Regions from separate parts of the Homo sapiens genome. Here region 1 is linked to region 2. The links come from fine-mapping of genetic effects on gene expression. A gene starts in region 2. The other region holds a variant in brackets. All regions are shown on one strand. Distances are from middle to middle.

Region 1 (5,365 bases), 27 kb before region 2:
AAAAAAATGTTAAACATGGAGTGACCATATGACGCAGCAGTGCCCCTCCTAGGTATATATCGTGTATATCTAAGAGGAATGGGAACATATCTGCACAAAAATTTGCATGGGAATGTTCAGAGCAGTGTTATTCATAAGAGCCAAAAAGTGAAAGCAACCATGTGTCCCTCACCTGATGAATGGATAAATCAACTGTGGTCTCTCCAAACAGTGGAATATGATTCAGCCATAAAAAGGAACGAAGCAGCTGGGCGCAGTGGCTCACGCCTGTAGTCCCAGCACTTTGGGAGGCCGAGGCCAGTGGATCACGAGGTCAGAAGATCGAGACCATCCTGGCTAACACGGTGAAACCCTGTCTCTAAAAAAATTAGCCAGGCATGTTGGCACATGCCTGCAGACCCAGCTACTTGGGAGGCTAAGGCAGGAGAATTGCTTGAACCTGGGATGCGGAGGTTGCAATGAGCCGAGATCGTTCCACTGCACTCCAGCCTGGGAGATAGAGTGAGACTCCGTCTCAAAACAAAACAAAACAAAACAAAAAAACGAAGCACCAATACATACTACAACATGGATGACCCTTGAAAGCATTATGCCCAGTGACAAGCCAGACACACAGGACGCATGTTGTGTGTTTCTGTTCATATGAAATTTCCAGAATAGGCAAATCCATAGAGACTGGAAGTAGATTAAGGGCCAGGGGCAGTGGCTTACGTCTACAGGCATGAGCAGTTTGGAAAGCTGGGGCAGGAGGATCACTTGAGACCAGGAGTTCAAGACCAGCAGTTCAAGACCAGCCTGGGCAACAGAGTGAGACCCCTATCTCTAAAAAAAAATAAAGTTAGCTGAGTGTGGTGGCGCCCACCTGTAGTCCCAGCTCCACGGGAGACTGAGAGGAGAGGACTGCTTGACCCTGAGAGGTAGAGGCTACAGTGAGCTATGATCAAACCACTGAACTCCAGCCTGGGCAACACAGTGAGACTCTGTCTCTAAAAATAAATAAATAAAAAGATAGGGTAGCTTAGGGGTTGCCTGGGGCCTGGGGTGGTGGTGAGCATCGGGGAGTGACTGCTAAGTGGAGTTTCTTTTTGGGTTAATGAAAATATTCCAAAATTGGTCAGTTGCAGTGGCTCATGCCTGTAATCCAAGCACTTTTAGGAGGCCAAGGCACGTGGATCACTTGAGGTTAGGGGTTCGAGACCAGCCTGGCCAACGTGATGAAACTCCGTCTCTACTAAAAATACAAAAAAATCTAGCTGGGCCCGGTGGTGCTCACCTATAGTCCCAGCTACTTGGGAGGCTGAGGCGGGAGAATCGCTTGAACCCGGGAGACAGAGGTTGCAGTGAGCCGAGATCATGCCACTGCACTCCAGCCTGGGTGACAGAGTGAGACTCCGTCTTGAAAAAAAAAGAAAAAGAAAATATTCCAAAATTGCAGTTATAGATGCACAGATCTGTGGATATTTAAAAACAACTGAATCATCTACTGTGGTGTAATTGTAAAGTGGTGAATTATATGGATTATATCTCAATAAAGGTCTTTTTTTTTCTTTTTTTTTTTTTTTTTTTGAGACGGTATCTTGCTCTGTCGCCCAGGCTGGAGTGCAGTGGCACAATCTCGGCTCACTACAAGCTCCACCTCCCAGGTTGGTGGACATTCTCCTGCCTCAGCCTCAGCCTCCCGAGTCGCTGGGACTACAGGTGCCTGCCACAATGTCTGGCTAATTTTTTGTATTTTTAGTAGAGACGGGGTTTCACCGTGTTAGCCAGGATGGTCTCGATCTCCTGACCTCGTGATGCGCCCACCTCGGCCTCCCAAAGTGCTGGGATTACAGGTGTGAGCCACTGCACCCGGCCTCACCAAAGGTCTTATTAAAAAAATTAGCCAGATTCCCTGCTTCAGTGATAAAAAAAAAAAAAAAAAAGAGGGGCAGGAGAAGAGGACCCAATAACTTCCTGAGTGACTGGGGAAAATATTTTTGGGTTATATTTCTGTAATTCTCGTGAAGTGATTACAGAAGTGACGGGATAGAAGAGGTTTCTTTAAAAAAAATTTTTTTTTTAATTTAGTAGAGATGGGATCTTGCTATATTGCCCAGGCTGGTCTTGAACTCCTGGACTCAAGCAGTCCTCCTGCCTGGGCCTCCCGGAGCTCCCGGGTTACAGGTGTGCAATCCCATGACCAGCCGATAGAGGACGTTTCTATTCATCCTTCAGACCTCAGCTTACAAGTTACCCCAAGATAAGCCTCCCCCACCCCATAACCCTCCCTCTGTCACTTTGTCACGTGTCTGAGCCCTTGTTTCTTCCTTTTTTTTTTTTGAAATGAAGTCTTGTTCTGTCGCCAGGCTGGAGTGCAATGGCGTGATCTCGGCTCACTGCAATCTCTGCCTCTTGGGTTCAAGCGATTCTCCTGCCTCAGCCTCCCGAGTTGCTGGGATTACAGGCACATACCACCACACCCAGCTAATTTTTGTATTTTTAATAGAGACGGGGTTTCACCATGTTGGCCAGGGTGGT[C/G]TCCATCTCCTGACCTCATGATCTGCCAGCCTTAGCCTCCCAAAGTGCTGGGATTACAGGCGTGAGCCACCGCGCCAGGCCTGTTTCTTCCTTTTATAGCTCTTCCCACACTTGGAATTCTTTTCTGCCTCTGGACCTGATTTTGTTGGGCTCTTGCCCAGCTGAGTTCCGTGAGGTTCGGGGCTTGTCTGTATCTTGTCTGCCACATCATAGGTGCTCAGTGCACACCTGTTGAGTGGATGCACCATAGATATATTGATAACAGCTGTGAGCGGTTGGGAGCGAGTGAGCAGAGCAGGGCTGCTCAGGGTGTCTCCAGCCCTAGTGGCTTTCTCTCTGTTCCAGTTCCAGGAGAAAGTCTCTGGAAAGGAAGCCCGAAGTCGGGTCTGGCTGGGAAGAGGTGGGGGCTGGGGCGGGTGCCGGGTGCTGGGGCTGGGAGGAAGTCTGCAGCCAGGCTGCTGAGGGTGTGGCGTCTGTGTGTGCACCTTTGGAATGTGGCTGATTCACTCTGAGGGGAGCCATATGCTGCCGCCACCGCCTCGGATCTGACATCTGGAGGCTGAATTCCAGGAGGAGAGAGACAGATTCCTGCAAGCAGATGCCAACTTTGAAGGTCAAAGGGAGCAATGGAACTGCTTTGAGGGGGGTGAGAGGGTCCAACACTCCCTCCAGGGGCTGGGAGGGAGGTGAGGCCCCCTCCCCAGACTTGCCTGAGCCCCTGATCTATCAGAGCCTCTATGCGGACAGCTGGGGCGCAAGGAAGAGAGCATGAGCTTCAGCGTTCAGACCTGGATTCAAAGACCAGTTTCTGGGCCAGGCACAACGGCTCATGCCTGTAATCCCAGCACTTTTGGAAGCTGAGGTGGGAGGATCACTTGAACCTAGAAGTTTGAGACCAGCCTGGGCAACATAGTGAGACCCCATCTCTACAAAAAAATAGAAAAATTAGCCAGGTGTGGTGGTGCGGGCCTGTAGTCCCAGCTACTCCTGAGGCAGGATTGCTTGAGCCCAGGAGGTGGAGGCTATAGTGAGCCAAGATTGCACCACTGCACTCCAGCCTGGGTGACAGAGCAAGACCCCCCCATCTCAAAAACAAATTAAAAAATAAATAAATAAGTAAATAAATGAAATAAAGACCAGTTCCTTGACAGCTCGTGTAACTGCAGAGGCCGAGGGTCTAGCTGGGTCCAGTGCTCACAGGAACACTGGCTTGCATCTCCCAGCCAGGTTTCCTCCGTTTTCGCTTTGCTCTTGGGCCAGCGCTTCCTGAGAGGAGGCCCTGATGTCACAGACCTGTGAACCTCCAGCTTGTGTCTACCACGGGTTCCAGCAGAATCCTAGGTTTGCCTCTCTTTGGCTGGAGCTGGGTCCCAACCCAGCCCTGTAGCGATCACCGTACTCCTGATGGGACAGGCCTGGGTCAGGAGCCTGCCCAGCACAGGGCAATACCCCTGTAGCCCCATGGAGCAAATGGAAATGAGGGGGGCTGTCCCTTAAAAGAACCACACCGGCCAGGCGTGGTGGCTCACGCCTGGAATCCCAGCACTTTGGGAGGCTGAGGTGGAAGGATCGATTGATCCTGGGAGTTGGAGACCAGCGTGGGCAACATAGCAAGACCCTGTCTCTACAAAAAAAAATTTTTTTTGAGATGGGAGTCTTGCTGTGTCGCCCAGGCTGGAGCACAGTGGCGTGATCTCGGCTCACTGCAAGCTCTGCCTCCCAGGTTCATGCCATTCTCCTGCCTCAGCCTCCCAAGTAGCTGGGACTACAGGTGCCTGCCACACGCCCGGCTAATTTTTTTGTATTTTCAAAAATTTTTTTTTAAATTAGATGAGCATAGTGGTGTGTACCTGTGGTCCCAGCTACTTGGGAAACTGAGACGGGAAGATGGCTTGAGCCCAGGAGGTTAAGGCTGCGGTGAGCCTTGATCGCACCACTGCATTCCAGCCTGGTCAACAGAGCAAGGCCCTATCTCAAAAACAAAACAAAAAAACATAAATACAAGAGCGACCCCCCAGCTCTGCTAAGCTGCCTCCACCATGCTGGCTGCCAGGCCCTGTGCTCAGCTTCATGGGCTTTAGCGTCCCCAGGTGTCCCTTTGGTTGAGTCTCTCCCTTAAGCTCTCAGATGCTCATTTTCTTCATCTCTGAAATCTCCAAGCTTCTTTTCAGGATTGGATGAGACAATCCTGGCAAATCCCTTGGCACAGGCCTTGCCCCAAGGAGGCAGATGATAGCTCACGTCTAGTTCCTTTCTCATCCTGACATCTAGGTTCTCTGTGATCTGCCTGTGGGCTCGAAGGATGGTGTGCATGTGTGTGTTTGCATGTGTGTGCGTGGGTGTGCATGAGTGTGTCTGCACGCAGCAGCAGCAGCCCCCTTTCTGTTCTCCTAGGAGTTTTGTATTTGATTTCTCCTCCAGAGTCTTGGGGGCTCCACAGGAGAGATGGTGGAGGCGGGAGGAGCAAGAAAGGGGTGAGGTTAGAAGCCTGGTCCCAGCTGGGGCTGCAGCTGGGGGCCTGCAGGCTCTGGCCTGCCCTGGGAGGCCCTCCCTGTACCTGCAGCTGCATCTGGGGCCGGAGGAGGGGCCAGGCGTCCTTCCGCTCCAGGAGCTGCTGCCTGTCCCCCTCCCATGACACATGAGGACTGTGTCTGGTCGATTCACATTGGAGGGTCCCTGAATGAGCTTTGTCCATTAGAGGACCTGTATTCTTGTTCCTGGAACCTGGGAGTGGGTCAGAAGGGTGACTCACACCTGTAATCCCAGCACTTTGGGAGGCCAAGGTGGGTGGATTACCTGAGGTCAGGAGTTTGAGACCAGCCTGGCCAACATGACGAAACCCCATCTC
Region 2 (5,365 bases):
GAGGATGAGTGTGATATAAAGAACCAGGGCTTTTTGCAGCCAGCACTCCTGAGTGCATTCTTGTCTGCAGCTGTGAGCTTCTGTCTTCCCATGTGCAAAATGAGAGGATAAGGAGACAGTAATGCACCAGAATAGCTTGCTCACTGCTGGGTGAGGTGGCTGATGCCTGTAATCCTGGCACTTTGGGGGACCGGGGTGGGCAGATCGCCTGAGGTCAGGAGTTTGAGACCAGCCTGGCCAACAGGGCAAAATCCCATCTGTACTAAAAATACAAAAATTAGCCGGGCTTGGTGGTGTGTGCCTGTAACCACAGCTACTTGGGAGGCTGAGGCAGAAGAATCACTTGAACCCAGGAGGCGGAGGTTGCAGTGAGCCGAGATCGTGCCACTGCACTCTAGCCTGGGTGACAAAGCAAGACTCCGTCTTAAAAAACAAAACAAAACAAAACAAAAAAAAGAATAGCTTGCTCACTAAGGGCAGTTAAAAATAGGCTTCCCACCAGGGCCATCCATGGCTCATGCTTGTAATCCCAGCAATTTGGGAGGTAGAGGTAGGATTCCTTGAGTCCCAGGAGTTCAAGACCAGGCTGGGCAACACAGTGAGACTCCTATCTCTATTTGTTGAAAAACAGTAAAAAGGTTTTTTTTTTTTTTTTTTTTTGAGACGGAGTTTCACTCTTGTTGCCCAGGCTGGAGTGCAATGACATGATCTTGGCTCACTGCAACCTCCACCTCCCGGGTTCAAGCGATTCTCCTGCTTCAGCCTCCCGAGTAGCTGAGATTACAGGCATGTGCCACCAGGCCCCCGGCTAATTTTGCATTTTTAGTAGAGACGGGGTTTCTCCATGTTGGTCAGGCTGGTCTCGAACTCCCGACCTCAGGTGATCCACCCGCCTCAGCCTCCCAAAGTGCTGAGATTACAGGCGTGAGCCAACGCGCCCAGCCGAAAGTTTTTTTTTTTTTTTTTTTTTTTTAAGTAGAAACATAGTAAGCCTTCCAGAGACTTTTTTTTGGTCAAGTGGTCTGGGATCTCTCCTTAGAGAAACTGCCTAACAGGTTGCTTCAAGGATTGGAGAGCGTGTAAGCAAAACTGCTCGGCATCCACCGGGTGCTGGCAACATCTAATAACAATATTTCCCAATAATAACAGTAACTATTGTTACTAGTAGGAATAAGTCAAATTAGGAGGCGCGATTTAGGCGGAACCTGGAAGGCGGTGGGCAGGATCCAGGACATTCCAAGGCAGGCGTGGGCTTCCTGAGCCAGGAGCCAACCCTCCAGGAGCCAGGGGAGGGCCTGGGGCCGGAAGGTGCGGCGTGCGAGCGGAGGACGGAAGCTCGCCGCCAGGGTCCCCGTCCCTGCCCCAAGTCGTCACCCCCTCTTGGGGAGCGCATCCTGGCGGAGGGGCAAGTCCCACACGGGCTTTGTTATGAATGGGAAGCTGCAGCCTTCAGCCCGCGGAGGGAACAGTGCGGGTCTGGGGGAATAGCAGGGGACCCGGCAGCAACCAGCAGACCTCCCCGCAGCGCTGGCAGCCTGCGCCCGGGGGCCGCTGCCGTTCAGGCCCGCCTCCACCCTCCCCTCCCTGCCGGGGCCCCCGGCTTCCTAGGGCGGCCCCAGCATCCGAGGCGCCCTTTGCCGTCCCGTCGCCGGGTCCAAGATTCCCAGGATCCGGAGTCCCGGCCGTGCGGCCAGCTAAGCAAGGCGGGAGGGAGGAAGCTGGCCGGCCTCCGAAGTCAGCCCCGAGTTACATGTGGGAAGCGGTGGCTGTGACGCAAGTTTCCAGGGGGCCCTGGGCTCGGCTCGAAGGGAGCACACCGGAGAGGCTCCGCTCCGTGCAGCTGCAATGGTGAAAAAGCAGAAGCCCCAAGCGCGAACCCCAGGCCGCCTTCCTTGCTGCCGCTGCACGCCCGACCCAGCCGCGCCCCCTCCTCCCTGCGGGCCGGCCGAGCGCGCGGACCCTGCTCTGGGCCAGTCGCTGCTGGACTCCGGGCTGCACGGGCTGGGCTCCCTGCGCGGTGGCTGGCCTTTTTTTTTTTTTTTTTGCAACGCTTGCCAACCTGTCAGCTGATGGACCTCATCACCCATAGTGGCGCATGTAGCTCGGCCGCAGCTCGCTCCATTCACGCCGCGCCCCGCAAGCCCGCCCGCGGCCCCCGGCCCCCTGCGCCCCGCGAGAGGCCTGCAGACCCCGGTTGCAGCCGGTCCCCGGGGGCCCGCGCCCCTCTCGCCCCGGCCTCGCGCCGCCCGGGGGGCGCTGCAAATAGTCCTTTGTTTACATGCAATTCCTTACTCCGCGGAAGGAGGCCGGGGGAGTGCTGAGTTTTCACCAGCTGTTTCCCGCCTTGAAACAGACATCTGATCAGCTGCAAACACACACACACACACACACACACACACACACACACACACACACACACATACACACGCCCGGGGAGGCAGGCCGGAGAGACCTCCCTCCCGCCCCTCCCGCCCGCCTCCCTCCCCTCGCCGCCGCCGCCGCCGCCAGCATCTGGGACCGGCCGATTCTGCACCTCCGTCCGGCGCTGCCCTTTGATTCGGATTTCCATCTTGCATTCTCCGGCTGATCGCGGGACCTGGCTCGTGCAGAGGAGGGGGGCCGATCGCTATGGAGTATTTCATGGTGCCCACTCAGAAGGTGCCCTCTTTGCAACATTTCAGGAAAACAGAGAAAGAAGTGATAGGAGGGCTCTGTAGGTGTGTACTCCTCCTCCCCCCACCCCCTTCCTACCACTGCAGCCCCCGGCCAGCCCGCCCGGGCGGGCGCGCGTGTGCGCACGCATGGCCCGCGCCGCCGACCCCGCTAGCCTTTCTTAGCTGCCGGGACGGCTGCAGCCCCACACGCCGGGTCCGCGCCGCCCCGGGACCCTCCTTCCTTGGAGCATGGGGGCCCCAAGCGGCCCCGGCCACTTTTGTCCGCTGCAGGCGGGCGAGTCGCGACGTTTGTAAATTGCAAACAGACCCACGTGGTTCTGCAGCAGTCCCGGCCATGCTTGGTGCTGGTGGCCTTCCCCCCCGCGCTTCCTCTTTCCCCCTCCTGCGGCGGCTTCCTTCCTCTCCTTCCTTCCTCGGGATCTGAGGTCGTCCCCATCCAAGGGGGTCTGGGGGCCCGGGGCGCGCGTGGGGGTGTAGCTAGGGCGGCTACAATGCAGCCATGCCGCGGCTCCCGGCGCGGGGTGGGGGCGGGGAGCCGGGCACTGTGCGTGTTTGCAGAGCGGGGCTGCAGCGGGGTCGGGGGCGTGCTCGCGTGTGGGTGTTGGGGGTGGGCGGACCCCGAGGGGCCCGCGCGGCCGGTAGGGGCGCCGCGGCCCGGGGCACGTTGGCTGCCGCTCGCTCGCCCGCCCGCGCCCGGGCGCTGTTTACTAGCGAGGCCTGGACGTGACTCTGCAGCCCTCTTGGAGTAGGCGGACCTCTGCGCGCGGCCTCGCGGGAGCTGTAGTTCTCCGTGTCCTGCTGGTGCAGCATTGTGGGATTTGTAGGCGCTCCTGGGCCACGCTTTCCCTGCACAAAGCTCGGCCCCCGCGGGCACGATGGGCAAGGCAGGCCAGGTGGGCAGGCCATTTGGGGAAGGGACACCTGAGGCCGCCCCTAGCCTCGCAGGGCAGCTTCCCGCCGCACGTGGGTTTCCTCTGCAAACTTTCCCATCCAACGCCCCTCCCCCCTGCCGTAAACCGAAAGCGTCGGGTCCCCCAGCCGGGTGGGTGGCCCGAGGTCCGCAGGCCTCCCCAGAAGCCACTTTGCAAGCTTTGGTCCTAGGTTGCTCTAAACCCAAAGGGTGATGGACTCAAGGACCACACACAGCCAAACCACCCCGCACACTTCTTAAAATGCACATGCCTGGAACTCTGATCGCTGGGGCCCGGACATCTGCATTTTGAACGACCCCCTGGGCGTGGTGTGGGGGAGGTGGGCGTTCTACGGCGTGCGCAAGTTTGGGACCTGTGGCCCCTTTCCTGCCGCGCTGCTCCAGGAGCGAAATGGCTCCCCAGGGCTGGAGCCACGTGCTCTGCCGCCCGAGGCAGTCTGGGCGGGGATTGAGGGAGGAGGAGCCCGCCGGTGTGGCACAGGCTGGTGGACGCTAGCGCCTGCAGAATCCGGCCTGGAGGGAAGGTTGCTGCACACGTGTAGACACTCCTGCCCAACCCTCTGCCCCGGGGGTCCCCACCTTAAGGCTACTCTGAAGTTCCCAGTCAATACCTAGACTTGGGCCAGTTGATGGGTTTGGCAGCTGGCAGGGATGCCCCGAGGGCTGGCCCTTGCACGAGGCCCACCTGGAGGGCCCAGTAATAATAAGTAAAAAAAATTCTTGAGCTCTTTTTATGTTCTGGGGACTCACTTTGCTAGAATTTTCTCACTGAGTTGTCATAATCTTTCTATGAGTCAAAAGTGTCTTTTGATTCCGCTTAAAGAGGCGGACACAGAGACTGGAGAAGGGACCACTACAGCAGGTGGTGGAACTGGAACTTGAACCCTTGTCCTGGGGTTGCTGCTGCTGCAGGGCTGGGCTGGGCAGCGCGGAGGTGCAGTTGAGCCGCTGTGCCTACTGGAGAAGACATTCTGGGCCTGATCCTGGGCAGGGTTGGGGGGCCCTCTGGCTGCCATGCCTGGGCCTTGGGTGAGTCCTCTCAGGGCCCCCTGAGATTCTGGCTTCAATTTATCCCTGCCCCAAGCGTTCCTTTGGAGCATACCAGCAGTCCCCCAGGGTAGCTGGATCTTGGTAGGCCAAGGACTTGAAGGTGTAGGGCCTTCGTCCAGGGTTGGACATGGCAACGTCCATTGCAAGACAGTTGTCAGCTGTGCATTAGGCATGGAGTTGGGGGTCCCTGGATTTGTTTACCTTCAGTAGGGGTTGCAGGGTGAGGTGGGAAGCCAGTCTGGGATCAAATGTGTTCATTAGGCAGGACCTTCTGGCCAGATGCATTTGCTTCTCAGGGTCATCTCAGGCTGGTGGGCTTTGCTCCATCCCTCAGTGACCAGCAGGGATCTCCCTGTCTTTCTGTCTCCCAGGCCTGCCAGAGGGGATTGTAGGGCACGGTGCTGCACACACAAGCTGCAGGTTTTGGACCTGTCGCCTAATGGTTCTCAGTCTCTGGGAAACAGAGCACCTGTGAGAAAATTAGCTATGGGTATGGCAAGTGCCTGGTAGCTGTAAAAATGACACTCAGTCTTTTTTTTTTTGAGACGGAGTCTCACTCTGTCACCCAGAATGGAGTGCAATCTTGGCTCACTGCAACCTCCGCCTCCTAGATTCAACCGACTTTCCTGCCTCAGCCTCCCAAGTAGCTGGGATTACAGGCATGTGTCAGCATGCCTGGCTAATTTTTTTATTTTTAGTAGAGATGGGG

Evidence for each region. PIP is the estimated chance that this variant, and not a neighbour inherited with it, causes the effect. A credible set is the group of variants that fine-mapping cannot tell apart.
Region 1: its variant is the best candidate, but not a certain one, in a credible set for the expression of TFAP4 in blood mononuclear cells (TOPMed, PIP 0.89).

The regions. Positions count from the first base shown.
Region 1 is chr16:4,296,903-4,302,267 of GRCh38, reverse strand. No RefSeq gene overlaps it. Among named protein-coding and RNA genes, the nearest start is that of GLIS2, 16 kb to the left of the region's middle. RefSeq lists a silencer at 2,866-3,160 and an enhancer at 4,660-5,365. The variant C/G (reference allele first, on the strand shown) is at 2,518.
Region 2 is chr16:4,270,010-4,275,374 of GRCh38, reverse strand. TFAP4 (transcription factor AP-4) reads left to right here and starts at 2,352. Exons shown (of 7, transcript NM_003223.3): 1 at 2,352-2,717. The coding sequence starts at 2,629. RefSeq lists silencers at 1,408-2,057, 2,778-2,827, 3,188-3,347 and enhancers at 1,206-2,181, 2,478-2,527, 3,428-3,617, 3,159-4,135.